3 separate regions of the Homo sapiens genome follow, and all the other regions are reported to be linked to region 3. Evidence: microRNA targets listed by miRTarBase, many of them from high-throughput screens and not tested one by one. Region 3 holds a microRNA gene; each other region holds the end of a gene's coding sequence.

Region 1 (9,576 bases), not on the chromosome of region 3:
GGTAAAATTGTCTGCCTTTTCATCCGTTTTCTTAAACGTATGAATTAGAGTTATTAATCTCCCCTGACAGATGACCTCAATACCTGTGGGTTGATTTCTACTGTCTGCTTTTTCTATTGGTTTTTGTCATTTGGTCCTGACTGAATGCCAAGCTTGTGTATTAAGAAAAAGCTGTAGTTGTTCTGGGTGATGTTCTTTTCCTCAGGAGGGTTTATTTTTTTTCTGACTGGCAGCTGGAGGGTGGGCAGATCATCTTAAACTGGCCAAGGGTGGTGTTTTTCTGGGTTGCTCTTACTCCCAGGCAATGGTTCCACCAGGTCCTTCTGAGAACTCTGGACTTCCGAAGGGCCCCCCATCTTCATGAGCCTCTACTTGCCCTCACCCCAACATAGACATGCACACACCTGCTTACACACACACACACACACACAGACACGATCTTACCATCTTTTTCAGATTGGCTGGTTTCCTTCAACGTACGTAGAAGAGGAGGGCATCCAGTGACGGCAGGAACGTGGACAAGACTCGCAGATTTTCTTGGGAGAGTCACTCCAGCCCTGAAGTCTGTCTCTAGCTCCTCTGTGACTCAGAGGGGAAATACCAACCTCCCAGTCTTCCACTGCCCACAGGGATAGGGAGGGTGTTGAGAATCCTAAACTCGAACCGTTTCACTGTCAGCCTGCCCTCGGCGACCCATCACTGGGTATGCTATTGTACATAGAGGAAACCTGGGCTAGCCCCACCCAGAGCGCAGAGGAGGGGGCACCGACAGCGCTGCGAGCCAGGCTCTGGGTAGTGGCTGAGGCCAGAGGCCCATCGCCTGCCCCTGTCCAACTGAGATGGCCTTCAGGAGCCTAGGTTTGAACAGCAGATGCTGTCCCAGGAAGGGCTAGGGACATCGGAGGGGACCTGCCCCCACACCCTCTGCTCAGCCCCTGGACTCAGCCTTGCCTGTCTTTTCCTGCTGCTCCCAGGGGGAGGTGTCAGACCTCGGGAGGCAGACGGGACCAGAGCCAGGCTGTTCACTGTGGGCCCACTTGCCCCACTGTGCTAGGGCGCGGGAGGAGAGAGCACTGTGGTCGCCCTCTGCAGCCACTCTGGCTCCCAAGACTTCCCTGACTCCCCCACTCCCCTCCTTGCCAGGGGCACACCCGGACCCCACACGGCAGGCCCCTCTCTTGGGAGGGGCCTTTGGAATGATGAAATTCCAACCCTGCTGCCCGGTCAGCGGTACCGTTTCCTGCCCTCTCTCTGAGAGGCCCTTTCTGGAGTCCTGGGAAGGTGTCTGCCTGGCCGCGCTGCCAGATCAGTACATCTTTTGTAAAAACCCTGAAATGGGCAGGGAAGAAAACAGGGATTTCCCCTCTCTAGATCCCTGCCAGGTCCCTCTCCAGGAGGCCCCTCTGCTCTCCTGAAGGGTGGTCCCTGAGGGTCTGCCCAGCCTTGGCACGAGAGGTTGGTTCCAGCCCCTGGCAGGGCTTCCTTCCAAGGGCCCCTGCAGCCTACAAACTGGGCCTCGGGCGACTCAAAATAAGTGCTCTTGGGGGTGGCTCTACCCCATTACCTCCCCCAGCCACAACTCCTGGCCTTCGACTTCTGGCTGGGTTAGCCAGACCCTGGTTTCTCTACCCTGATGTTGCATGAGACCTGGTAACAGTGTCTCCCTCCCAGCTCCTTGCCAAAGCCTCTGTTGAGACCTGGGCTTCTTGTAGCCCCTTCTCCCTCTGGCCAGCTGCACAGCCTGTGGGAGGTGCCCGGCCCAGGCTGGGTGTGGGGGAAGCTGGTCCCTGCTGTGGGTGGCGCTGGGGACCTAGGGGCTCCTTCTGAGGTTGGCCTTGTGGCCTCTGGGCTGTATGCCTCTGGGGTGTAGGGAAGAGGCGGGAGGAGTCATGGGGATGGGGAGCGGCAGGGGGAGAGAGGGGCCCTCGACAAAGGCTTGGGAAATGAGGGGAGGTGGAGGCAGGGCAGGGGAAGCGAAGAGTCAGCCTTGGAGAGAGCACCCTGGGGCCTCCGTGTCGGGGTACACCCAGCACTTTGCGACCTGCGGCCCAGCAGGCGCGGAGGATGGCGGGGAGGAAGCCAGCAGCCCCTGTGTTTACTGTCGTCAGAAAGGTCTTGTGTTTTGGTTTTGGGGTTTTTGTTTTGTTTGTGTTTTGTTTGGCTTGTTTGTTTTTTAAGGGGAAAAAAGTTTGTAATTATTTCATCCAAATCTCCCGTTATATATCTGTGAATAATAAGAGATTTTATAATAGCAAGAAAATGATGTATATTTTAGTTTGTTGACAAATAAGTCATCATGATCACGAAGGACACTGAGAAAAAATAATTTAGAACCCTGGTTTTTGTGAATTTTTTTGTTTTGTGTTTCTTTGTTTTGAGATTTGTGTTTGGTTTGGTTTTTGCACTGCACTAAGGCAGGAGGGTTGGAGGGCTGGGTGCAGCCTGGGAGTCCGATGGTTTTCAGCAGGAGACGGGGTGTCCCCTGCAGGGGGCTAAACTGCAGGGGCCTGAGATTAGCTGTGAACATGTGGGAGCCCGATGCATGTGGGTCAGGGATCTGGGGGCCCCCCCAGCTGGCGGGAACCCCAAATGGACACAAACTGTACATTTGCCAATGGGTTTTTTTCAGACCATGGTTTTTACTTGCAAATAAACCTGAGTTCTTTTCTGCAGGAGTGGTCAGCCTTTCGTACCAGGGGAGGAGGGAATGGCTGGATTCTTCCGCCTAAGTCCAGCAGGGTCTGTCTGACTGGGGTGCTTGGATCTCAGGGTGGCCCAACCGCAGCAGGGTCTGAGAGATACGGAGGTAATGGTGCCATGGCCACCTCCCGGCTGGCACAGCACCCTGGGTTTCCCATGCGGTGCCCTGGAATTCTCCAGGTGGCATCGGGCATACAAATGGGATTCTAATTCCTGCCCCATCACTTGGGTACCTCTTGAGCCCCTGTTTCTTTACATGTATATTGAAGATAAAAATAGCCTCAGTGCAGTGGCACACACCTGTCATTTTAGCACTTTGGGAGGCTGAGGTAGGAGGCTGAGGTGGGAGGATGGCTTGAGCCCAGGAAGTTGAGACCCGCCTGGGCAACATGGCGAGACCCTGTCTCTACAACATTTTTTTTTTAATAGTTGGGCATATGGTGGTGCACATCTGTGGTCCCAGCTTCTCGGGAGGGTGAGGTGGGAGGGTCGCTTGAGTCCAGGAGGTCGAGGCTGCAGTGAGCTGTGATTGCACCACTGTACTCCAGACTGGACAACAGAGCAAGACCATGAATCTAAAAAAAACAAAACAAAACAGAACAAAAAAAAAAAAAACCTCTCCATTTTGGTGGGTTCTGTGGTGTATGATAGAGAAAACCAAAATAGAAAATGAGAGATTTATTTCTCCTTCCCCTCATGGAGGACCATCCAGAGGCAGCAGCTCCTTTGCCTTGCCCTGGTCCCAGAGCCATCAGGAACCCTGGCTCCCCCCTCCCTGATCCCCTGGTCTCAGGGGGGCTCCTCTTTCCTGATTCCCCATCCTCAGAGGCTCCTCCTTCCCAATCTCCCATCTTCAGAGGCTCCTCCTTTCCCGATCCGCCGTCCTCAGAGGCTCCTCCTTCCCGATCCTTCGTCCTCAGAGGCTCCTCCTTCCTGATCCGCCGTCCTCAGAGGCTCCTCCTTCCTGATCCCTCGTCCTCAGAGGCTCCTGCTTCCTGATCCCCCATCCTCAGAGACTCCTCTTTCCCGATCTCCCGTCCTCAGAGGCTCCTCCTTCCTGATCCTCCGTCCTCAGAGGCTCCTCCCTCTCTGATCCTGCATCCTCAATGGCTGCTCCTTCCTGATCCCCCATTCTCAGGGGCTCCTTCTCCCTGATCCCCCATTCTCAGAAGCTCCTCCTTCCTGATCCCTCATCCTCAGAGGCTCCTCCTCCCTGATCTCCCGTCCTTAGCATGCCCTTCCCTCCTTGTGGCTGCCTCGTGGTCCACGGTGGCTGCTGGAGCTCCTGCCACAGGGCCATGAGAGAGAACAGAGATCCCCTTACAGCTCTGGCCAGGAAACAGCCCATTTTCTAGAAGTGGAAACTGAGGCTGAGATATGTGAAGTGACTCATCCAAGGTCACACGTGGCCCTTGCACAGCTCGGTCTGATGCCAGAGTCCACGTTTCTGTTTGGGCAGCACCCAGTTCCTAAGCGATGACTTTTCTGCCTCTCAGGCCAGCCCCTGGGTCTCCCACCCTTCCTGCAGACTGGACCCTGGCCAGCCTTCGCCCCACTGAGGCTGCTGGGAGGCGAACCCGATGGGCAGAGTGAAAATGCCCCCTTCTCCAGGAGCTTCCAACCCCAGGAACCTCTCCCTTGGGCCAAGCCTTCTCCCAGATGTGCAGGCTGGACCATGCCCATCTGACCTGCCCTCGCCCCCATTCACTGGTACGTCAGCCGAGTCTCCAGGAGGGACCCCTTCCCAGGGCCGGCCCCACCCTCCTCACGCAGCCCTCCCTGCTGCTCCTGGCCCCCTGGGGGTGGCAGGCAGGTGTGGGTGCAGGGCGACCCCTGGACAGCTGACCGTGGAGTGGGTGTCCCAGGCTGGTGATCAGAAGGGTGAATCAAGGAGAAGTGATGGGGCCTTGCGTTCTGAGAGAAAATAAAATAGCTCCCATTTACTGAGTGTTTTCTTCTACCAGGCATGGGGGCTCTGGGCGAGCACATCCCTCCCCTTCCTCCGTCCTTGCCCTCCCTCTGTCCCTGCCCTCCCTCCATCCCTCCCCTCGCTCCACCCTCCCCTAGCTCAGTCCCTCCCCTAGCTCCATTCCTCCCGGTGTTCCGTCCCTGCCCCGCTCCGTCCCTCCCCCTCGCTCCGCCCCTCCCCTCGCTCCGCCCCTCCCCCTCGCTCCGCCCCTCCCCCTCGCTCCGCCCCTGCCCTCGCCCTGTCCTGGTTGGCTCAGGCTGCCGTGACCGCTGTGGCTCAGGCCCCAGACCCGGCTGCCTCAACTCTGAAATCTCCTTTCTTACGGTTCTGAGGCTGGAAGTTGGAGATGCAGTAAGGGAGGGCGTTGGTTCCTCCTGAGGCCTCTGCATGCTCATCTCAGAGGTCTCTCCCTCCTCTCATGGGGACCCCGTCCTCTTGGATTAGGGCCTACCCTCAGGACCTCGTGTCACCTCTTCCGAGTCCTTCTCAGAGTCACATTTGCGGCAAGTTCTCCACGATGGCTTTGCAGCAAGAATCACTTCCACTCACTCCACAGTCCTAGCGAGGGCCCACTCTGTGCCTTTTCGATGCCCGGGAAGAAACCAAATGGAAAAGCCGCCGCCGGGGAAGCTGATATGCAGGGAGTGGGGAGGGGTGGGGGGAGAATTGAGGAAGCTCTGGATTGTTTTTCTTTCTGCTCCTTTTCTCTCTCCCCCTGCTTGTCCCTCTCCCCCTCTTTCCCTGAATGTGTTGCAGTTTTCTACGGGACTCATACAATCCCTACTTGACCCACTTTGGGTGTTTTCTTTTCTTTCTTTTTTTTAAGAGATAAGGTCTCACTCTGTCACCCAGGCTGGAGTGCAGTGGCCCAGTCCTAGCTCACTGCAGCCTCACGGTCCTGGACTCAAGCAATCCTCCTGCCTTAGCCTCCCAAGTAGCTGAGACTACAGGCACGTGCCACCCTGCCCAGCTAATTTTTTTTTTTAATTTTTTGTAGAGATGGGGTCTTGCTACTTCACCCAGGCTGGTCTTGAACTCCTGGCCTCAAATGATTTTCCCACCTTGGCCTCCCAAAAAACCAAGATTATAGGTGTGAGCCGTCGCACCCAGCCTAGGTGTTTTCTTTTATCTATTAAGTGTTGCAAAAAATACGAATTTTGTGCTTGTGCTTGATTTTTCTCATTTATCCAATCAATTTGTATTGATTCCTTACCTGAGATCCAATGTTGAACAAGACCAACAAGGTCTCAGCCAGTTTCTAGTGGCATATCAGGCTGAGCTAACATGGAGGCCTCTCTTCCTCCACTGCCAACACAGAAATCCTTGAAAAAAAACATGCAGAAGGCATAGCTGAGCTGGAAAGAAGGGCCCATTCCAGAAAAAGAGAAATCGAAGCCCGAGGAGATATTGGGAGCTAACCCCGGGGCAGTCTCCAGGGTCTTGGCCTCTCTGGGCCTGGGACCGGTTCCAACACTCTCCTGGCATTGGGAGCCACAGTTGCAGATCCCCCGAGGCCAGAAGCCAGCACTGGGCCCCCTGCATAAAGTTAAGCATCTCAGAGAATCCCCATTGTGCAGAGGAGACTGACACGCATGGATAGTTGAGAGTGTCTGGAAAACAAAGCCAAAATCACGGAGAAGGATAAATGTTTTAAAATATTTTTTAAAGGTTACAGAAATAGAATAAAAAGGCACACCATACCCCACGCCAAATGAACCAAGAATGGTTAACCTTGGAGTTCAAAGATAAAAAGTAATCCACTGGGCATCCAAGCAGAAAGAACAAGTCTCTTAAGAGAAAAAAAACCAATCAGGTTTGCTTTAGACATTACTCCAGTAACACTCGACATTACCCCAGTAACGCTCAATGCTAGAAGGCAATGAACAATTCACACAAGGTCTTCATGGCAAGAGAGACCCAAGAGTTTGATGCTCAAATAGTTGCTCATTTGTCAGGCAGCAACTAACGCATTGCCACATGTAAAGACTCAGGGGCGGCCCGGCGGGGTAGCTCACGCCTGTAATCCCAGCACTTTGGGAGGCCGAGGCAGGTGAATCACTTGAGGTCAGGAGTTCGAGGCCAGCGTGGCCAACATGGCAAAACCCCTTCTCTACTAAAAATACAAAAATTAGCCAGGCATGGTGGTGGGCGCCTGTAATCCCAGCTACTCTGAGGCCAAGGCAGGAGAATCGATTGAACCCGGGAGGTGGAGGTTGCAGTGAGCTGAGATTGCACCACTGCACTCCAGCCTGGGCGACAGAGTGAGACTCCATCTGAAAAAAAAAAAAAAAAAAAAGACTCAGGGGCTGTTACTCAGGGAGCACTTGTTAGAACAATGACCAGGGGCAAACTCCGGCTGGATGACTGGAAAGCTGCCCCAAGGATTGGGGCAGAGTGTGGAACCGGAATCTCTGGAAACAAGTCTTTTTTTTATTTGTTTTAATCAAACAAAAGAGATTTCTAAGTTTTTTGCGTTCCTTAAAAGTGAAGGCTTTGTCAAACATTTTTGTCTACTCTGGGAAATGTACAATGATTAGAAAAGTGCATGTCATAATAGTTTCCTTTTTTTTCTTTGAGACAGAGTCTCGCTCTGTTGCCCAGGCTGGAGTGCAGTGGCACAACCTCAGTTCACTGCAGCCTCCGCCTCCCGGGTTCAAGTGATTCTCTTCCCTCAGCCTCCTGAGTAGCTGGGATTACAGGCACCCGCCACCACGCCTGGCTAATTTTTGTATTTTTAGTAGAGACGGGGTTTCACCATCTTGGCCAGGCTGGTCTTGAACTCCTAACCTCATGATCCGACCGCCTCGGCCTCCAAAAGTGCTGGGATTACAGGCGTGAGCCACCACCCCCGGCCATCATAGTAGTTTTCCAAACTTCTAGTAGTGCTCCAAAACCTCGAAAGTACTCCAAAACATCATAGCAGTACTCCAAAACCTCGAAAACAGACAGCTCGGAATAGCTTAAGAAGTATAACCTGAAGATTTTAAAATTTCAGAAATTAGCCTTTTATAAATTGTGCAGAATATTTATTTTTATAAAAAAAAAGATTATGTTTTCCGGACACATAGGTATTTAGATTACTTCTACCCTGCAAGACTCTCGTGAAAATAAAAGACTTCAAATAGAAAAGGAGAAAAAAGTCAAAGGGAAGAAAGGAAAAGCCGGTTTACAGCATGTGAATTGCTTCTGGACGCTCTGGTTCTTGAATGGGCCTGTGCAGCCTCGTCTGTGTATCTGAGCATTCCATGTCTTCAATACCAGATTTGAAAGAAAGAAATTGGAGAAAGCACAGAAACAAGTCTTCAACGCGGTGGGAGAGGTGCTGCTGCTAGGCAGCTGTGGTAAGCCCTGCAGAAGGCAATCACGAATGTAAAGAAGTATAGTGAGTTCTTATACCTGTTGCTTTGATGTCCATTTTGAATATAAGTTTAACTCTCTCACACCAGAAGCAGGGCTCGTCACCCTCGACACAGTTTACAGTTTTTTTATTGTTGTTTTCGTTTCCGTTTTTGAGACGGAGTCTTGCTCTGTTGCCAGGCTGGAGTGCAGCGGCACGATCTCGGCTCAATGCAACCTCCGCCTCCTGGGTTCAAGCGATTCTCCTGTCTCAGCCTCCCAAGTGGCTGGGATTACAGGCGTCCGCCACCACGCCCAGCTAATTTTTGTATTTTTAGTAGAGATGGGGTTTCACCATGTTGGCCAGGCTGGTCTCGAACTCCTGACATCTGGTGATCCACCTGCCTCAGCCTCCCAAAGTGTCAGGGTTACAGGTGTGAGCCGCCGCGCCCGGCCACAGTTTATAGTTCTGTGCCTGCAGCACTCCCCCAGTTCCTCAGTGTGGTCGATCCAGACATCTGTCTTGTGCCACCGCCTCCTGGTGACCACCTCGCTGTGGAACAGCTGGAACAGCCTGCTGGACCGACCCACCCACTGTGTGGCCATGCAGGCAGGCCACAGTGATGGCCTCTCAGTCAGTCGGCAACCAGAGACCTTGAGGCTGCCTGTCCTAACCCCACCAATCAGAACCCTTGTGGGAAAGCTGCTTGGGTAACACCCTGGACCCCAATAAAGACTTTGGCCCACAGGTGTCTCTCTCTCCCTTTCTCCCTCTCCATCTTTCTCACTCACCCTCTCTCTCTCTCCCTGTCTCCCTCTCTCTCCCCCTCTCCCCCTCTCCCCCTCTCTCCCTCTCTCTCCCTGTCTCCCTCTCTCCCTTTCCCTCTCTCCCCCACCCTCCCTCTTTCTCCCTCTCCCTCTCCCCACTGGTGGTTTAGCATGTGTGTTCTGGACTATCCCCTCTTATCAGCCCCAAGAGGCACAGCCCTCTCTCTCTGGATCTGGAAGGAGTGCGCTGCTCTGATTCCATGTGTCCTGTGCCGCTGCCTCCTCTGTGTCCACCTGAGCCACACGCCCCAGCCTCACTCTCCTCTGGGTCCAGCCTCTCCTGGAAGGTGGATGACATGGATATGACCTCTCCAGAGAGAGGCCTCAAGACTAAATTAGAGGAAAACAAGACAAAAAGAGATAAAGACAGTGGGGAAGGGAAAGAGGAGCGGGTTGGGGAGGACAGAGGCACTGGTTTCCTCCGTTTGTCGGGCTTCAATGATATTTCTTGACTTTTACCTGGAAAATCGAGTGATGGAGGCATAAGTAGACTTCACGGCACAAATACAAACACCAAGAAAGATAATGAATTAAAGTTGGATGAAGATGAGAGAAAGGAAGGGTGAGGAAGATAAAAAAATAGTAATACAGTTTCCGGCCAGGGAAGGAGCAATGCGTGTTGTCTCCAGAGGCTTGCCTTCTGCCTCCAGCAGTGTGTGCATTCATTTTTCTATCGCTGTGTCACAAATTACACACGTGGGGGCTTAACACAACACATTTATTATCTCATGGTTCTGTAGGTC
Region 2 (9,728 bases), not on the chromosome of region 3:
AACTCCTTCAAACCAAGCCCCAGCAGAGACCAGGGAACTGTGCTGAGGACACCTAGCTTCCCTGGAGCCCTGCTGCGGGGAAGAACATCAAAGAAGCTAGAGAAGGAAGCCTGCCCGGGCTGGAGAGGGCCGGTGGTCGGTGAAGTTTGAGTTACAGATATCTTGGAAAAAAAGAAGGAAGGAAAAGGAGGAAGAACTTATATACCAGCAGTTTAGCCCTTGGGCGAGGCTTGAGAAGTGCACCCCACTTAGAGGGCATGACACAGAACGTGCCAAAGTGGGGTGCCCCTGGCAACTATGGTCCTGTTTGCAGCACCCAGGTCCTTGTCCCACCTGAAATATCCAGTTCCTGGGGCCCAGCCAGCAGAGAAGCCTGAACCCAACATTATCCACGAGGTACAGCCACACTTAGAGACATTCGTCCAACAGATGGAGGAACACCCCTTCACCCCAGAAAAAATAACACGTTTATGCCATGAAAGTTCACCTTTTTGTCATCTATATTTTGTGTCACGATATCTGAGCACGTGTAGCGTTTCAGGTATTTGCGAATGTCCTTGAGCACTTACGAATAAACTGATTATTTGCAAGTAAGGCATTAATTCAGAATTGGGGTTTTCTTTTAAGTAATGGCTCACATGTTAAGATGCAAGCACCGGTGAAAATGTGTGGGCTCACGGCGTTTGCTCGGTTTTCAAATAATTGAAGTGTGCAGAAAGGGAAGCAGATACGCGACACTTATGAAGCGGGGAGTAGCTAAGGACATTTCCCTAATTGCATTTGTAAACAGGACCAAAATTAGCCCAAAGCCCCAAAACATGCATGTTAAATGTGCTCTGTTTAGAAACAGAATCACTTCTGAGTTGAAATGAAAAGGCAAGGGTGTTTGCATTTGTAACATTAGGGAATAAAAGTGACTTTCTAAGCCTAAGAACTGTTGCCGGATCTCCACCCACCGGAGCAAAGCCATCCCGGAGGACACTTCCACACTCCCAGGGGCCACAGGGCTCCCCCAGCCCAAGGCCGGCAGAGGCAGCTGAGGGGAAGGGCCTGGACTTGGACTCTCGAGGTTCGTTGACCCCTTTGATCACCTCTTAAGTTTCCTGAGGAGTAGAATGAGTCCTTCAACAGAAACAGCTCCTGCTGATGAAGAAAACAGGGACCCAGTGCGACAGGCAGGCAGCTGAGCAGGGGCTCCTGGAGCCCAGGGTTGGGTCCGGGGACCATAGGGCAGCCCCAGCTGAGGGGCCTGAGGGGACAGAGCCTGTCAGGGCCCAGGCCCTACCTCTCTGCGCCTCCCACAAATGTGTCCCACCGTCCTCCTCCTCCTCCCTTGGTGCAGGCTCACAGTGAAACCTCCCTCACGAAGGAGGCCTGGGACTGGCAGGAAGCAGAGCAAAGGAGGGACCCTGGCTGGCTGTGGCCCCCTTGGGACGGCTGCACTGAGCCTGTGTGAGGGCACGTGGAAGGGACAGGCGTCCAGCTGGGGCTCAGGCAGTAGAAGGTGAGCGGCCCCAGGCCCTGGGCCATCCCAGAGGGTCCCCAGAGTACAACCAACTCTTAATGGAGGCAGGCAGGGGGGCAGGAAAGCCCTGTGGGCCACCAGAGCCACTAGGACACAGCTCCTGAAGACCTAGGGCTGGGCTGAAGGCCACAGGGTGATATCAGGGAATAGCTCAGACCCACAGAGTCCAGAATACCCCATAGCAATCCAGGCTGAATACAGGCTTTCGTGGAGGAGAGTTTCGTAGCAATTGGAGAACAAGAGTCTGGGAAAATGGTAGGTGGGCTCTGCCTCTGGGAAGCAAGGAGGCTGGGGCTAGCAGGTAGGCCCCAGACTGGCCCCGAGCAGAGGCTTGGGCGGTTCAGCCTGCAGTCCACTGGACGCTGACCTGAGTGCCTCAGCCTGACCAGAGAGACAAGGCATCTCCTAAATCTGAGAAGCAGCAGAAGCCCCGAAGGACCAGAGAGGATCGCTTCCCAGCCATGAAGAACCGCAGCAGATGGCGGGAGGGCACCAGAGGAGGGGTGGGCCAGGGGCCCAGGACAGGCTGCCCAGGCCAGGCGTGGAGGAGGCCCAGTGGGTCCCACAGAGACACTGGACCCACCATAGACAGGGGCAGCAAGAGGCTGACCTCAGAGACCGTGGTCACTGATGGGGGGCTTTTCTCCCGGGAAGCAGCTGAAGTCTAGTAATGCCCCCACATGGCCCTGCCTCTCTGACAGGGCTCTGAATCCCGGGTGTGGGAGGCCAGGGCAGCAGAAAATCGAGTGACAGCACACAACAGAGGGATGTCTAGGCTTTTGGGAAGGGAGGTCATCAGGCCCCCAACCCATCAGACGGCGCAGTGTCTGGGTGCACACTGACCCTGGAATTGAGTTTCCTGCTGGCCCCCTCTCCCTCTCTCTGGCAGACCGCCTTCTTTTTTCCTTGACCGCAGGCAGTGACCCCCACCCTGTCCACTAAGCCTTAGCCCCATGACTGGGGCTCCCAGTGGGAAGGGAAATGGGGAAAAGGGCACCGAGCGTCATGGCAGTGCAATGTGGGAGGAATACAGCATAGACCATGGCCCCGTAGCTTTAAATAAGAAATTTATTGCAAATATAGAAATTGATTCTCTCCATACAGGAATCTCCGAGTTGAGGAAAACAATTTCGTGCCATTCAGTTTTAAAACAGGAAATTGAGGGAAGGGAGAGGCAGATACAGGGAAGAGAAAATAAAGTTAACCCCCACCCCCAAAAGAAGAAAAGGAGAGGGTTCAAGGCCCTCAGAGGAAGGAAAGTTTCGTAACACAGCAAGGGTTCACAGGTTCAGAGCCCAGGGCCTGAGCCCAGCTCTGCAGGACCCAAACCAGGTGCCCAACCACAGCCAACTTGGGGACTGGCGGCTCCTGAGGAAGGGAGGGAGGGAGGGAAGTGTGGCCGCCACTGCAGGAACTCCAAGCCCCTGTCCCAGCCCTGTGCTGGAGTGTGGAGTGGCAGAGGGGCAGAGGAAGGAGGAGCAGGCCCAGACCATCCTGCCCGTCCTACAGGACCCCCTTCCTCTCCCTCCTGCTCAGCAGGACTGCCTGACCTTTAGTGAGGCCTGAAGCCGCCTCTGGAGGCAAGCAGTATGGACCCTGGTTTTGTCTTAGAAGGGGCACCCAGGGTCAGGGAAGGAGTGTGTCAGGATGGAATCTGAGCATGAGAGTTAGAGGAGGTCCCCTCTCCTGGGGCTCAGCCACCTCTGGAGCAGCCACCTTGTCAGACAGGAGAGGTGGCAATGGGGCCAGCCAGGCAAGGCTGCCCTAACCTTCACACTGGCTTCCACGGGCAAAGTAAGCCCCTCAGGGCTGAGCTTCCCCAGGCTCCCCGACGGCTTGCCCCGCCCATCCACACTCATGGAAAGGGGGCTCTGCTGGGCCAGGAATGGGCAGGGGCAGGGTAGTAGGGGACAGAGGCGGTGCTTGGGGGACAGGCAGCCACTGCAACCCCACTCCCTCTAGTCTCGTCTTCACACCCACCCACCCACCCACCCTTCTGGCTCCTCTTGTCATTCACAGCTTGGCTCCCTGTCCCCCCATCCCACACAGGATGCTCCCTGACCAGCCTTGCCCCTCCCCCATCACCCTATTTTAATTTTCTGCAAGGCGCCAGTCACTAGGGAGCATTGTGTCTTATCCCTTCCCTGCACTTAGGCCCCTTATAAGCTAGGACCTGTCACTGGTGTCCTTAATTCCTGATGCCATCCCGGCCTCAGCACTGTCACAACCGAGTTTGTCAGCTCTAGGTCTCCTTTCCTCTCCTTTCCGTCTCTGCACTTCTGTTCACCCCGCTGTTACATTTCCAGGAGGGAGTGGGGCAGGCGACCAACTTCCAGTTGAGAACATGGGTGACTCTCGGCCAGCCTGATACTCCCCACTGCTGCTGCCCCAGCTGCCTCCCGGGGACGATCCAGGCCTGGCCTTCCCAAGCAGGTCTCTTTACTCCCACCCTCCTCGCTCCCCTGACAGCCCTTTTCCCAGACCTACCCAGACACGGGCTCCCCAGCCTGGACACAGGCTGCTCCCACAGGCCTCCTGCACTGCCTCAGGAGGGGAGCCCAGGTGAGGGATTCTTTGGTGGGCAGAGAGAGACTCTTCCTGCCGCGGGGAAAAGCAAGGCCGGGACCCGTGACGAGGTTTCCCCACCAACCAGGCTTTCTTGCCTTCATGCCAGACCTCTGTGTTTTGCTACTGGAAGGCCATAAGCTCCAACAGAGGGTTAGCTGCACCTGCTGTGCCCTCCCAGGAAGGAGCAGACCCATTGTGCTACTTCCCAGAAACAGCTTCAGAGGAGATTCTCCAACAGAGGCAGGCAAGCCCAGGTGTGACCTTGTTCCGGCCCAAGGCAGGAGGCCTCCCCGCAGAGGTCCAGGGCGTGGCACCCACACATCCCTCGCTCCACCGGGCCTCCATCTCCCCTCCCTCCCTGTGGCCCCCCCTGCCCTCTTTTCCTGGTGTCTGCCCTGCTGGCCTGCCCCAGACCACAGCCCAGCTCCACCATGCTCATCATCATCACAAACCCAGACCTTGGATGGCAACATTTTGTGAATACTTCCCTCCCGCCTGGGAAAAACTCATCCTGAGCAGGACGTGGGACACAGATGCAGGCCAGCCTCCGGGTGGGCTCTCCCCAAGCTGAGCAGTTGGGGCTCTGGCCTGGCTGGGAGGCCAGAGACCCGAGTCTTAGACCCCGCTCTGCCTCACAAAGAACCACATGAACTGGGTCTTCAAGGCCAGTTCCCCTCCTGGATCATCAGAGTCCTGCTCTTTGGAAGGGCCCCTGTCCCTGCAGTCAGAGAGTCTGAGGTTTCCTAAATATCTTCACGCAGAAAGGATGGGGAAATGGCAAGCGCAGGCCCCTAACTCCTGCTGCTGGGAACCCTCCCTGGGGCCCAGCCCAGGCGTGCTCCTTCTTCCCACGGGTTCCTTTCTCAAAGCCCCCACCCTCTCCCTGAAGCCCCCCACGAAGCCCCAAGCTCCTGGCCTCCTACACTCAGCAGTGTGACTGATCCTCCACCCCAGCTGGCCAGCCAATTCACCAGGCCCGTCTGGGAGCCCTGACTTCCTCATCTACAAAACGGGAACAAGCGGGACGGACAGACAGTCCCTTCCACCGGGACAAGAGCCCTTGAGGAGGCTTCCCTGGGGCTGCCCTCCCTGGCATGGAGGAGGGGAAGGAACTGGGGACAAGGGAGGTGGCAGTGGAGAGAGGGAGGGAGGAAGGGAGGTGGCACATGGGCCCAATGCTCAGAAACACAGGAGGTGGGTGTGGGGCAGGGCTGTGTCTTGGTGGCACCTGTTTTGGGTCTGTTTTTGCAGAGCTGACCCCTCCCTGGGTTTCAAGAGCTGCTCGTCAGATCACAACAGACAGAATGTGGGAAAGCAGGGCATCAGAGAGGGGGCGGGGGAGTCTGGACAAACTGGCACATACACGACAGATGTTTGCTCAGAAAAATACAGTAAAATCGTCATGCAAATATAACAGGGAGTCTGCTTCCTCACACCCCTGGCTTCTCTGCCTGCTTGCTTTTCTCAGTTGTGCCAAGGGGGTGTGAGGAGGGGTTGGGGGGCAGGTTTTGGGGGCCGGGGGAGGAGGTCTGCTCCGCGTATCCATGCCGCCCCCTCCCCTCCTCGCCCCAGGAGAACAGTCTTTTCTTTGCAAATGTCACCCTCAAAGTGAGCCCTGGGCTTCGTTAACCCCAAAGTTGGTGTGAGAGAGGTACTCAGCTGAGCCCGAGCCTCCTAGCCCTCTGCTGTCCTCCCTCACCCCCTGCCCCCAGCAGGAAGGTCGTTGGGGTCCCCAGGGGATGGCACTAGCTTTCCTGGTCAGAGCCCCTGCCCACCAACAGTGCCGGTCTTGGACCCATTCCAGTGCCTACCCTCGCCCCTCAGTCACACTCCCCAAATCTCAGGAAACCCATGTGGGCCACAGGCCCTAGACTGGGGGTCTCTGGCAGGGGCGTGGGGAGAGCCGGGGCCCCCCAAGCTGAGGTGGGTGGCAGCCAAGCGACATGTTGCTAGGCGGGCAAAGCTGCTAGTAGAGGCGTCCCCACACCCCGCTGGGCCAGCTCCCACCCAGAGGTGAAGGATGATGGACTCCGGCCCATCAGCATCCTGACTGGTCAAGACCCCAGTCTCAGGACCGCAGATTTGCCTCCCAAAAGAGCTGGCCCCAGGAGCTGCTGCCAGGCTGGCCCTCCCTCACCACCCTCTGCCACCGCCTACATGGACAGAGAACCCCAGAGCCCAACGGTCACTCTGGGCACCAACTGCCAGGCACAGGGTTACCATGGTGACAGAGGCTGGCTGGGAGGGGCTGGGGCGCCACGAACCCAGCCTGCTCCTCAACCCTCTCTCGGGTGGGGGCCTCACTGTTTGTGCTTTGTTTGATGTTGGGTGGGGGGGTCAGAAAGAGGGAAGTGGCCATTGCCACGGAAACATGGGAGCCCCTCTGGCCAGGGGGCCAGGCCTGGATGAGCAGCCCAGAGGGGATGGGTGAGAAAGCCCTCCTTCCCCGGGTGGGCGGCTGAGATAGGAGCCGAGATCCCACGATGGGGTCGGGCAGGTGGGGACACAGGCCATGGGGACAGGCAGGAAGTCCCCCATGACAGCTCCTCCCTGCAGCCCTCCAGGCATCACAGTGCACCGCTGCCCTTCTGCGGTGGGCAGGGGTCTCGGAGGACCAGAGAAGCTGGGGCCGGGAGCCTGCACCTGAGACGTCCTGGGAGCTGGCCTGCCCGCCACACGCCCCACTCTTCCCAGGCCACGTGGAAGACACTTGAAGTGGGCTGGTGGAATGTCGCCCTGCCTCGGCTCCTTTCCCGTCAACAGGACCCTCTCCCTTCTCCCGGGTGCCGGCATAGGGGTCAAAAGCCCCCCAGGATTCTGAATCACAGCTGCACACTCTGGGGGCACTGCCATGTGGCTTTCTAGGAAGAAAAAGCACCTGCCTGATTCCCAAGTCCCTCAGCCCCAAGGGACCACAGCTTCGGAAAGGGATGTGGGGTGGGCACAGGGCGGGCAGGGGTCCACAAGAGAGCTGCAGGGGGTTCCGGGACAGCACTGGGCTGGGAAGTTGGGGGACTTGAGGCTAAGCTGCTGTGTGACCCTGGGGTTGTCAACTCCCTTCTCTGGGCCTCAGTTTCCCCCCCTCTCTAAAGTGGAAGGAGACATTGCCCGATGTCTAATGCTAAATCTGCAGGTGACTTGACTCCCAGCTTGGGAAGGGACCCTCTCCCTGCCCTAGAGGGGCTTCAGTCCCTCTCTACTCCAGCTTTCTTGACCCCCACACCTGTTTCTAGCCCCAGACCCCCCAGACCCCACACCCTCTCTTGGCTTCCTTCCTCCCCCCGCCAGCCCCCCGGCCCTGCACACCCCAGCAGAGTCCCTGGGCAGCACAGTAAAGACGACTGGTTTCGGTATCAGTTTGTAAACTTTAAGGAAAATGTGTCTCTGTTTTCCTGTCCGTTATTGTCGGATGTTGGTTTGTTCACAGTCGGGTGGTGGTCAGGTGTGTGTGTGCGTGCGTGCGTGCGGGTCTGCATGTGCGTCCTCTCCTGGGCCTTGGCCCCCGAGTCTGCTCCCCGCCCTGGCCGCCTGGACCCTTCCCCCAAAAGGCCCCCAGCCCTCTGGCTCCGACCTCACCAGGGAGGAAGGGGGGGGTCACAGCTTCTGCTGGGCGGAGACCCCCTTCCAGTAATCAAGGATGTCATGCAGATCCTCGTCCTTGGCGAACTGGACCTTCTTGCGCAGGGCGTGACCGGCGGCCATGTACACCTCCTCCCGGTGGTGCTTCTTGTAGGGCCGGAAGCGCTCCCAGATCTTGTGCGTGCTCTCGGATGAGTACTCGGGGCTGGAGGAGTACCCTGAGTAGTAGTGTCTGGGGGAGAGCTGCGAGTAGGTGGAGTCACGCTTGGAGCGGGTCAGCGGCTTGAGGAAGGACACGCGCTGGCTCAGGCTGTCGGCACCCTCCTCGTAGTACAGGGCGGGAAAGCTGTGCCGGTGCTCGCTGCAGTGGTAGGCCGGCTTCACCTCCAGGTGGTGGATGCCCCCGCCCCCGCCGCTGCCCCCGCCGCTGCCCGCCGGCACCAGCGGGAGCCGGTCCAGCGGGCTGTTGAGGGGGCTGCCCTTCTCGATGTACTTGGAGTCGCCCTTAGCCAGCCCTGTGGCGGCCGGATGGTCGGGCACGTCCAGGCTAAAGACCTTGGCGCTCTTGATGGAACCACTGGACGACACGCTGCAGGTCTTGCGGGTCACGGCCGCGTCGGCGCTCAGCTGGCGCTGTAGTGGGTGGTGGGAGCTCTCCTTGTAGGGAGGCGAAAGGAAGCTGGGCCGCTCCAGGGCCCCGGGGCCAGTGGCTGAGGAGGCGGCAGCAGCTGCAGGGAGGGACTGGCACTCGAAGGCCAGCTCGGGGTCCCCACTGCTGCTGCCGCCTCCCAGAAAAGAGGCCGAGTCCAGCTTGAGAGCATCGATGCAGTTGTTAATGATCTGGTTGACCTTGTCCACCTCCTTGGCAATGGTGGAGATCTCTGCAGCCGAGCCCTGGCCGTTCTCGAGGTCCGGGAGGTCATCCTCGGGCCGAGCCAGACCGTCCCCGCCGGCGCCTGTGCGCACCTCGATATAGTTGCCTTTGGTGGCTACCTTGGGTGTGTCCAGCCCGGCCTCCAACCCCTTGGCGGTGGGCAGCTTCTCCCCGATCATGGAGGGGATGGAGGCCATGCGAGATACGGGCAGCACGGGAGGCTCGCCCAGCTTCTGGGCGGCGTGCACAATGGAGCCGGCATCCACATCAGCCCCGTAGCGCATCTCCAGGATGGTCTTCTTGACGTTGACAGACTTCTGCTTCTCCTCCTGCATGCGCCGCTTGCGCAGGCAGTAGTACACGGCTCCCAGCACGATAACCATGCCAAAGAGGCAGCCCAGGATGGTCATGATGTAGTGGGTGGTGGTGGAGGTGCTGGGCGCCAAGTCTCCGGGGACGGGGTCCCGCGTGGTGAAGGTCAGGCAGGTGTGGTTGAAGCGGCGGCTGTTGCGCAGCGAGGTCACGCAGAAGGTGTACTCAGTGTGCGCCCGCAGTTTGTCCAGCGTCACGATCTCCTTCTTGTTCTTGAGGGTCATGACGTCGGAGAAGTAGCTGTTGTTGTACTGCACGAGGATGTACATCTTGCTGTAGGGGTGTGGGATGATGACCACCAGGGTGGCCGAGGTGAACGTGACGTGGTGCAGCTTGATGGCTGGCCCTGCCGACGCATCCGTGGTGGACGAGGCCGGCGGCTCCACCGAAAGGATCTCGTCGGGGTTGAAGCCCGAGTTCTCGTCTGGCTCCCTCTGGGCGTCGGTGGAGTAGGGCGTGGGGTGGCTCACGGGCCGGGCGGGCAGCGAGCCATTCCGACACTTGGCCTGGAGTACGGTGATGGCGTTGAGGCTGTGGTAGGGCCGGGGCACCAGCAGCGGGTAGCCGGCAAACTCCCGCGGCGACTCACACTGCAGGCGGTCGTAGTTCTTGGTGACGTTGTTGAAGACCACCAGCCAGGCCAGGAAGCCGAAGAGGTCGCACTCACAGTTGAAGGGGTTGCCGGCCAGCTCACACACCATCAGGCTGGCGAGGCTGGCAAAGGTGGCACCGTCCAGGCGGCTGAGGCGGTTGGAGGACAGGTCGATGCTGATGAGGCTCGGGCACTCGGAGAAGGCGGTGGGCGTCACC
Region 3 (9,400 bases):
GCGCCTGGCGGCGGGTGATTCAGTTGGGTAGGTGGGTCAAATTGACCGGATTTTCCAACCCAGATTCACACTTCCTGTCGAGACGGTCGTAAAATAGCTGGCGAAGGTGTTTGTAAACAAAAGTGCATTCAAAGGTTGCCGCTGGGGGTGAAAACAGCGGGGGTTAGGGGAAAGAGGCTCTGTGGCTGGAAGCATTCACTTAGCCCGGGGCACTGTCCCAGCCCAGAGGATATGGATGTCTTTGCAGTCCCTCCTCCCTTTCCCACCTCCCCCGGTACACACACACGCACACACACACACACACACACACACAGCCGGAGTCCCCTCCCGCAGCAACCCCAGGACACGCGTGGTACAGCCCTTGCTGTCGTCCCGTCGATGGGTTTAGGGATGAAGGGTGAGAGCGGGTCGGCGACTGGGAGTGGAGGCGATAATGGGCAGAGTTGGATTAAATTGTCTCCAGCAGCTCCGAAGGCAAAGCATGGGGCAGGGGCGGACACACCGCGGCCTGGAGGGCGCTGGGCGCGGAGGAACGGAGCTCGGGGGCCGGGCCGGCGCTCGGCCAGCAGCGCCGCCTCCCCGGAGGAAGGCGGGGGCCGGGAGGAGGGAGCGGGAGAAGGCGGAGGGCGGAGGAGGGCGGTGCGCTGAGAGGTTATTTGTGGTTCGCTTTGATCCCGAGGGGGAACCTGAAACTCTCACATTCCTGGCATAGCAGCCGCCTCCGGCGCGGGCCGACCCTGGGGCTGCGCGCTGGGGCGCGAACAGCCAGAGCGTCGGCGCCACGGCCGAGAACACATCTTCGCCGCCGAGCTGAGCTGGGCCGAGCCGGAGGTTGTGGTGTCTGACTGCGCTGGGCACCCTCGGGCCGCAGCGGTAAGGAAGGCCGCTCGGCGCTCGGGAGAGCGCGCGAGGCCACAGAAACGTGCCCCAGCCAAAGCTGGAGTCTCGGCGCAACCCGGCCTTTTCCGGGAGTCGGAGCCTCGAGGATCGAGCGTCCTCGGGGCGCAGTGCGCCCTTTCGAGGCAGCCGCAGTGCCTGGCAAGGGCCGCTCTGCCCAGGGAGCGCAGCGCGCTGGGCTTTGCGGGGCTCTAGAAACGCGCGGGTCTCTTGGGGCTGGGGGAGAGGGGAGAGGGCCGACTCCGGAGACAACAGCCACAGTGTTTCGGGTTGCAGGTCGGCGGGGGTGGGGGTGGCGGGGGACAGGGATGGAGGCGCCGCTTGGAGCTCAAGTTGCAGGGTCCTGCGGGCTGATTTGGTTAGGTGGGGGTTACAGGTGCCTTTGCCCCCAACTAGTCCAAGAATTCCTCTTTGTCTTCCTTGGAAAATCCTCTCTGGAGCCACGAATTGGCCCTCACTTAGAAAGAATGCAGCCTGCTGTCCAGCCCGGTGACGTCAGCGTTAGAGTATTTGGAAAACAAAGAGGGCTCGAGAGGGAGGGAGGCGGACCCGCGATGCTTAAAGACCTCTCCGGGCCTCGGGCTACCCTCACCGGCTCGCCCCAGGCGTACCAGCGGCCACCGGTGCTCCAGGTCCGCCCGGGCTCGTGGTGGGGCGGGAGCCCTGGCTGGGGTGCCAGAACCTCCTAGCTTGGAGACTGTCTTTGGTTCCTTAGGCGAGCAGGAGCCCAGGCCAAGGCTGGAGACGCGCGCTGGCTTAGAAAGGCGGCCTTCAGAGAGCGCAGCGGGCGAGTGCAGCAGAGGTTCGCGGCCGGGGGCGCGGAAGCAGGTTTTTGTAAAGGCCCAGGCGTTTGATGTCTGAAAGGACGTGAATCTGAGGGGCTTGGCCGGGACAAATTCGCGATGAGAGGCCTTGGAGATGTTCCTTGCTCCCAGTCCGGGCACACTATGGAGCGCCTGGAATCTGTCAGGAAGGCTCCGCATTCCTTCCTGCCGCTCCCCTGCCTTCTCTGTGGGAGTCGGCCCAGAGAGTGATTATCATAGGAAATGCCCGCAGATAAAACTCCAGGGCGAACTGAATCCCATACGAATTGAATCCCATTTGCTTGCTTTGCCTCGGGTAGCTCTGGAGTCTTGCACATCTACCCCTCGTTGTGTGTGGGGGGCGCATGACTGGGTGCCAGGAAGGATGGGTACAGAGGTGCCCTCCAGACTCATCCCCCACTCCCCAGCTCTGGGCAGCTGGAGTACTGGGGTGGGGAGAGGGAAAAGATCGGGAATGGCTGCTCTGCCAACATGCCATAGCCCAAACTGAAGCAGGACACTAGGGCTAGTTTAGTGGCAGAGGAGGGGCCACATTCCTCCCACCCACCCCCCCAACCCCTGCCCATACACACAGGACCTGTGGCAGTGTGGATTCTGTTTAGTTTTCCCTGGATCCCAGTTTGGAGATTTGTGTTGGAAGAGGCTGTGGAAAGGAAGCTGGGTGAGAGAGGCAGGCAGATTTCCAGTCCATGAACCACTGGGAGCCCAGGCTTAGAAGGGAACTCCTTTCTCCGATATAATCTCCCAGCACTTTAGGCTCACAGTCCCCTCTCCCCTGCCCCAGGTCTCTCAACCAACAGCCTCCCCTTACTTCTCCAGTTGGCCCAAGTCAAGATGGGCTTCCTTGACACTGATGTCAAGAAAGATGCTGAGTGCCCATCCCTTATGTGCCTAGAGGACCAGTGGGGGCTTTTCCAAGTAGCGTGTGTGTGTGTTTGTGTGTGTGTGTGTGTGTGTGTGTGTTGGGGAGGATAATCATAAAATCAAAGACATCATGCCATCCTTCCTTTTTCCTGGAGCTCTCTTGCAGTTACTGTCAGCACAAAAGACTGACCCACTAACCTTAATGGGTGGCACCTTTTTGCCTCATCTTACAAAACCATTGTCCTCTTGAAGCATTTTTATTCATCCTTTATTCACCAATTCAGGTGCAATTACTCCTTCTTCCTGTTCACCTTGCAGAATGACTGCCAAGGTCATCCCATGACAGGGAGCCCCAGATTCATTCTGTCAGCAGCGCTTGATGAAGCAGAGCCCAAGCCCATCCTCCAGGAGTTCTCTGGTTCAGGGAGAGTGGGAAAAGTGGCCAGGGGTTCAGCGGGCTAGAGGGTGGTAGGTTGACTGTGCCAAGGCTCTGGGATGCCTCAGTCTAGAGGGTGGTAGGTTGACTGTACCAAGGCTGGACTCTGGCATGCCTCAGTCTAGAGGGTCCTAGAGGCCTTTCGCCTAGGGCTTCTACTGGACTGCATGCATTCTTTATCACCTGCCAATAAATTGGGGCCCCATCCACCCCTAGACTGAATAGCTAAGTGGTTAGATCTGAACTAGGCCTGCCTTAGAATTGCCCATCAGGCTGTTTGATGTGTAGCTGGCTGTACGGGTGGTGGTTCCTGGTGGGTTATCTTCTGGTTTCCTGTTGTCTCTCTCCAGGAATAGTAAGTCTCCATGAATGTTATCATTAGTAATCGTTTACCAGGATTTTCACTGTGCCAGGAGCTCGCAGGCCACTGCCTCTTTTTTTTTCCTCATCTCCATGAGTCAAGCAGAATTCTTTGCATTTTTCTGGTGGAGAAACTGAGGCTCAGAGATTAGGTAACTTGTCTTAATCAGTAGATGGCAGCACTGGTACTTGAACCCAGGCTTGTGTGAACCGCCCCACCCCTGCTCTTCACTTTTATGCTTTCCACCAGAGTAATAATGGAAATCCTGGAAAGCCTTCTCCTTTCCCATGGGTTCCCACTGATTGCTTTTCTCTCTCTCTCTCCCCACCCCACTCCAGGTGCTCTGGGGCCAGGTGCCACCGGCCATTGTCCAGGCAGCTGTGTGCAAGCCAAAGAAGCATGAGGACACTGGAAGACTCCTCGGGGACAGTCCTGCACCGCCTCATCCAGGAGCAGCTGCGCTACGGCAACCTGACTGAGACGCGCACGCTGCTAGCCATCCAGCAGCAGGCCCTGAGGGGTGGGGCTGGAACTGGGGGTACAGGGAGCCCCCAGGCCTCCCTGGAGATCCTGGCCCCAGAGGACAGTCAGGTGCTGCAGCAGGCCACCAGGCAGGAGCCCCAGGGCCAGGAGCACCAGGGCGGTGAGAACCACCTGGCAGAGAACACCCTCTACCGGCTATGCCCACAGCCCAGCAAGGGAGAGGAGCTGCCCACCTATGAGGAGGCCAAAGCCCACTCGCAGTACTATGCGGCCCAGCAGGCAGGGACCCGGCCACATGCGGGGGACCGAGATCCCCGTGGGGCCCCGGGAGGCAGTCGGAGGCAGGACGAGGCCCTGCGGGAGCTGAGGCATGGGCACGTGCGCTCGTTGAGTGAACGGCTCCTTCAGTTGTCCCTGGAGAGGAACGGCGCCCGGGCCCCCAGCCACATGAGCTCCTCCCACAGCTTCCCACAGCTGGCCCGCAACCAGCAGGGCCCCCCACTGAGGGGCCCCCCTGCTGAGGGCCCAGAGTCCCGAGGACCCCCACCTCAGTACCCTCATGTTGTACTAGCTCATGAGACCACCACTGCTGTCACTGACCCACGGTACCGTGCCCGCGGCAGCCCGCACTTCCAGCATGCTGAAGTCAGGTAACTCTCCCCACCTTGGGCTTTCCAACTCCTGGCTTTCTTCCAGCACAGGTCTCTCAGGGAGGAGAGCCTCAAGATCACAGCTTGTGTCAGAGCTAGCAAGATCCACCCCACCTCCAACCTGAGAAGGGAGAGCTAATGCCTGGCAGAGAAGAGGGACTTAGCTGAGGTCCCCTAAGAAGTTAGTGGTGTCCCTTGCCTTAATTCAGAGATAGGCACCATTGTCTGCTTAGCTGTAGCATTCAAGTAACTAGAGTCCCCAGAGTACACAAATTGCAGCAGGGGGTTAAAGGTTAGATTTCAGAAAGAACTTCCTAAAGGCAAGGTTGGGAATGATTGCCAAACTGTTTCCAAGTTAAGCAGGAAGAAGGTGGGACTTCCTTCTCTGGAGATTTTTTAAGAAAATATGAGCAGCTTGCTTTCTGTGATTATTGGGAGGCATTCCTAACTAGAGGCTGGAAAGGCCCAGTGGTCTGATTAGAGACCTCTCAGCATCTTACACCAGGGCAGGAGCTTACTTGTCTCTCCTCTTCATTTCCTGCCATATGCTCCCTGCGTCTGCAGCCTGCAGTGGGAAAGGATTCTGGGTCCAAGTGGGCCCTTTTCTGGTGAGGCTCAGGAGAGGCTGCTGGGCCATGGTAGGGACTTAGAGTTTGATTCTGAGTGTGCTGGGAGGCCCTCAGGGGATGTGATTTGGTTTACCTTTTCTAAATGCTCTCTCTGGCTACATGCAGAGCATGGTTTGTAAGGGGCCAGAATGGAAGCAGGAAGACCCGGGGAGGCAAGAAGTCTAGAGAGTTTGGAGAAATAAGTGTTCCTAGAAACAAGGCCCTGCCTCACGCTTCTCATCTTGCCCAGCATCTTTTCCAGAGAAGCAGACACAGCCATCACTGCTGCATCTCCCCCTATGGGAGTCCAAGAAACCCCACCAAGGGACCCCAAGGATTTCAGACTCTTCCTCTGGTGGCCCAAGGTCAAAGTCTGGTTCTCTTCATGCCTGCTGTGTTCCTTTAGTAAACACCCACTTTCCCACCGTCCGGCTTTCCTTGCTCTCGAGAAATGAGTGACATGATGGGGTTGGTATGGCGGAACCAGAGGTTGGAGCCTCATAGTTTTTCTCCAGCCTCCACCCCTCCAGACTCGCACTTTATCGCCCCTCTCAGGGCTCGGTCAGGAAGAGTTTCGGAAGCTGAGTGGTGGTTTCTTCTTTTGGACCAGCCTTATTGAACCCTGTCAGGAAAAGATAGTAATCACGGCAAGGAAGTAGACTGTTTGCAGGAGAACAAAAAGCAGGGGAGGGAGAGGACGAGGAGAAAGGAAAGCAAGTGTGAAGGGAAAGGAGTTGCTATTCTTTCTCAGAGCTAAGTCATCCCCAAAGAATGCCAGTTGTGTCTGCCTGGCCCAGTGCAGGGGGGAGCAAGTTCTTGAAGCAACCTTGAGAATGGCCATTTTAGCAGTGGAATGGAGAGTTTGAGCACTCCAGTGGGGACCCTCTTCCCAGCTCTTACTGGAAGCCCCACCTTAGGTAGTAGGAGAAATACATCTGCCCAATATCTCCTTTCAGATGATCCAGTGAAGATTATTTGTTAGGAAACGGGCTAGACTCCTAGCCTAGGGTCCTGAGAAGAGCAGGGGGGCCATAGGCTGCATGGCAGCAAGAGTCAGGGGCAGGCTGGGTGTGCATTAGTGCTGAGATGATGCACCCAGAAGGGGAATTCGGTTTTTGCGGGGCTTCTGGGACTTGGAAGATTCTTTGTGAAACTGAGGCAGTTGTGACACTGGGAATCACAAGGTCCCAGGAAGGCCCTTGGACTCCCCGTGCCTCTTGCCCTTTGCTCCTTCCCTCAACATGGAGCCCTGGGGGTGATGTTACACCAGTGCCAGAGGCCAATAGAATATTGTCCCCTGAACTCAGTGACCACAGTAGTCCAGAGGCAGCCCTTACTCCCAAGGAAACCAAGAGTTTGGGCCACATTTGTTCTCTAAACTGAGGGTAAACTGAGGCTCCTACTAGAAGAGATGGAGGATGGGCCACCATTATAGGAGCACCTGCCACCCGCCCAGCACTGGCCCAGCACTCTGCCAGGCCTTACATAGCGTCATCCTCAACAAATCCCAGCGAGGCTGGAGACCCTCATGATGCAACAGAGCAATGCCCAGTCTGTGGGGCTGAGGCACTCGCCCAAGGTTAAACAGCTGGAGCAGGGATTTGAACCCCTATTTGTCAGACTCTAGAGCTCAGACTCTTACCCTGACATTTGTCTCATTGCTCTAACCTTAACTGGAGTCTTCTAAAAATGACTCTGGGTGAGTGGGGGGTGGGGGGTGGCAGGACTTGAAATAGGAAGGAGAAAATGAGTGCTGCTTTGGCAGTCTTGAAACTGGCGACTCGTGTAATAGACACAAGGTTGCTGCTGGGGCCCAGCCACCAAAGTTGTCCTGGGGCCTGGAAGGTTATATGCTCAGTCATGATTGACATGGCCTCCAGCCCCAAAAATAACCTTCCATTGATTAGAAGTGTCAGGGTGCATTTTTTAAGATGATGTATTTAAGCATTAGTTGCTTAGGAGGCCCAGGATTGCTCAGGCTGATCCCCAAGGCCCCAGCCACTGTGAGGCGGGTATGAAACAAGCATCCTGACATTAATCCCCTCTAGCCCTGCTGTCTGACTCTTGAGAGCCTCAGGCAGAAACATTTGGAAAAGGCCTTCCCTACTGGTCCCTGCCTAACACTAGAGGGTTGAATAATTATCTGCAGTAATTTTAATAATATATTAATTATTGATAATAATTAACCATCTTCCCAGTATGCCTAGGAGTGGGGTGACCCCGGGCTGCTCTGGTGGGAGCCATGAGGGTCTGTGCTGTCTCTGAGCACCGTCTCTTCTGTTCCCCAGGATCCTGCAGGCCCAGGTGCCTCCTGTGTTCCTCCAACAGCAGCAGCAGTACCAGTACCTGCAGCAATCTCAGGAGCACCCCCCTCCCCCACATCCAGCTGCTCTCGGCCATGGCCCCCTGAGCTCCCTCAGTCCACCTGCTGTGGAGGGGCCAGTGAGTGCCCAGGCCTCCTCAGCCACCTCGGGCAGTGCCCACCTGGCCCAGATGGAGGCCGTGCTGAGGGAGAATGCCAGGCTGCAGAGAGACAATGAGCGGCTGCAGAGGGAGCTGGAGAGCTCTGCGGAGAAGGCTGGCCGCATTGAGAAGGTAGGCCCTGCTGGGGCTTCAGAAGGGCAGACCAGAAAGAGACCCCGAGGGGCTACCTGGGGAGTGGGTAGTCCAAGGAGAGGCAGAGGAGCCTGAAAACTGTTTGGCTGGATTTCTCCCTATCCCTCTGTCTTCCACCTCCCTCACTCCTCATGCACCCTCCTGAGCTGACTCCAGACAGCTGGGGAACAGCCGAGAGGCCGGCAGAGCAGGCCTGGAGCATGAACAGTTGCTGGCCAGTGGTGATTAGAAAGAGCCCATTCACCAGCTCCTTGCACACTCGCACCCTTGCCCTGCACACACCCCCTCCCATGGACACCTCCCACAGAGAGCCCTTTGTGTCCCCCACACAACAGCAAGTCTGTTCCAGGCCAGCCCTGGCCAAAAAGAAAACTTCTCCTCTTGGAAAAAAAATGGGCGACTTGTTGGAATCACAGGCCAGCTAAGAGCACGTGCGGAACCTGCCAGCAGCCAAGTGGGAGGAGCAGCCGGGGCCCAGCTGGCCCTCTGGGTGGATGGTGATGCCTGGGACACCAGGCAGAGGCAGCTCTGCCTGGTGCCCGCTTCTTTAGTGAAGGGTTACCAGTTTTCCGCTGAGGCTCAGTTTTAGCAGATGGCCTCAGGCCTCCCTTGACTGTCCTGTGGTGTCCAAGTTAGGTCAAACCACCCCATCATGGCTGGAGTCTTTCGGTGCCCACTTCTGGCCAACTGTACTCAGTTTCTTGGTGGAAGCCAGCCAAGAGTAGAATGTTTCCTTCTGGACACTGGGCACAGGGAAGCTGTGTTTAGTCACCCCGCAGGCAGCTACTTCCAAAGTACCTGGCCCTGGGTTCACTCAGCATCTGGTCCTTGGGGCAGCCGATGGGACCGTTGCTTGCTGGTCCCAGCAGTCTATTCTACTTCCGGAGGCTACAAGCTTCTGACCATCCCACCATAGTCACCTGGAGGTTTTGCTCCTGTTTGGTGGCCTCTCATCTGTCACCTTTTCTGATGGAGAGTAGTGGGTCAGCCTCGAATCACTCCCTGGGAGCTCTCGCCTTCATTCAGCTCTGCTGTCTGACTCTTGCAGCTGGAAAGCGAAATCCAGCGGCTCTCTGAGGCCCATGAGAGCCTGACCAGAGCCTCCTCCAAGCGTGAGGCCCTGGAGAAGACCATGCGGAACAAGATGGACAGTGAAATGAGGAGGCTGCAAGACTTCAACCGGGATCTTAGAGGTGAGAGCCAGTCACACAGGTGGAGGTTGGAGAACCTCTGCAGAGGACTTACTTCTTTTGTTCTAGAGAAAAATTGGGAATCTCTATTCTCTGTCAAAAGTGCAGATGAACTCAGAGAGCCAGGCTGAGACCCCTTTGGAGCTGCCCTGATAGAGAGATGCTTGTCTCTATGTACTGGGCCTAGGATCCCCTCAGGGATGATGGCTCTTGACAGAGGAGGCTCCCACCCATGGGGCCCTGAGCTGAGCTGGGGTTTCCTTATGAACCCATCCCCAATATGGAGGATACAGCCCCATCCTGATAGGACGTCAGGAAAAATCCCAAGCTGGCAGCTTCACCTGACACTAAAACATCTTTCCTTCCCTTGAAACAGAGAGATTGGAATCTGCAAATCGCCGCCTGGCAAGCAAGACACAGGAGGCCCAGGCCGGCAGTCAGGACATGGTGGCCAAGCTGCTTGCTCAGAGT

Evidence for each region. Region 3 holds the annotated microRNA hsa-miR-6827-5p (UGGGAGCCAUGAGGGUCUGUGC, at 7,358-7,379, shown strand). A microRNA usually pairs through its seed, bases 2 to 8, with sites in the 3' UTR of a target mRNA and lowers its output. Matches are read on the target gene's strand: a 7mer-m8 pairs with bases 2 to 8, a 7mer-A1 pairs with bases 2 to 7 and ends in A, and an 8mer does both.
Region 1: miRTarBase lists VAV2 as a target of hsa-miR-6827-5p. Seed matches in the 3' UTR shown: 7mer-A1 at 967-973 and 8mer at 1,100-1,107.
Region 2: the mRNA of ELFN2 is a reported target of hsa-miR-6827-5p. Seed matches in the 3' UTR shown: 7mer-A1 at 6,748-6,754, 7mer-m8 at 6,725-6,731, 8mer at 6,466-6,473, 8mer at 5,075-5,082 and 7mer-m8 at 4,078-4,084.

The regions. Positions count from the first base shown.
Region 1 is chr9:133,754,990-133,764,565 of GRCh38, reverse strand. VAV2 (vav guanine nucleotide exchange factor 2) reads left to right here. Exons shown (of 30, transcript NM_001134398.2): 30 at 457-2,672. The coding sequence ends at 504. Among named protein-coding and RNA genes, the nearest start is that of SARDH, 21 kb to the right of the region's middle.
Region 2 is chr22:37,365,385-37,375,112 of GRCh38, forward strand. ELFN2 (extracellular leucine rich repeat and fibronectin type III domain containing 2) reads right to left here. Exons shown (of 3, transcript NM_052906.5): 3 at 2,576-9,728. The coding sequence ends at 7,688. Among named protein-coding and RNA genes, the nearest start is that of ELFN2, 57 kb to the right of the region's middle. RefSeq lists an enhancer at 2,654-3,620.
Region 3 is chr3:134,365,815-134,375,214 of GRCh38, reverse strand. MIR6827 (microRNA 6827) reads left to right here and starts at 7,353; the gene lies at 7,353-7,411. AMOTL2 (angiomotin like 2) reads left to right here and starts at 768. Exons shown (of 10, transcript NM_016201.4): 1 at 768-873; 2 at 3,721-4,515; 3 at 7,412-7,718; 4 at 8,788-8,932; 5 at 9,306-9,398. The coding sequence starts at 3,782. RefSeq lists enhancers at 1-708, 709-1,508.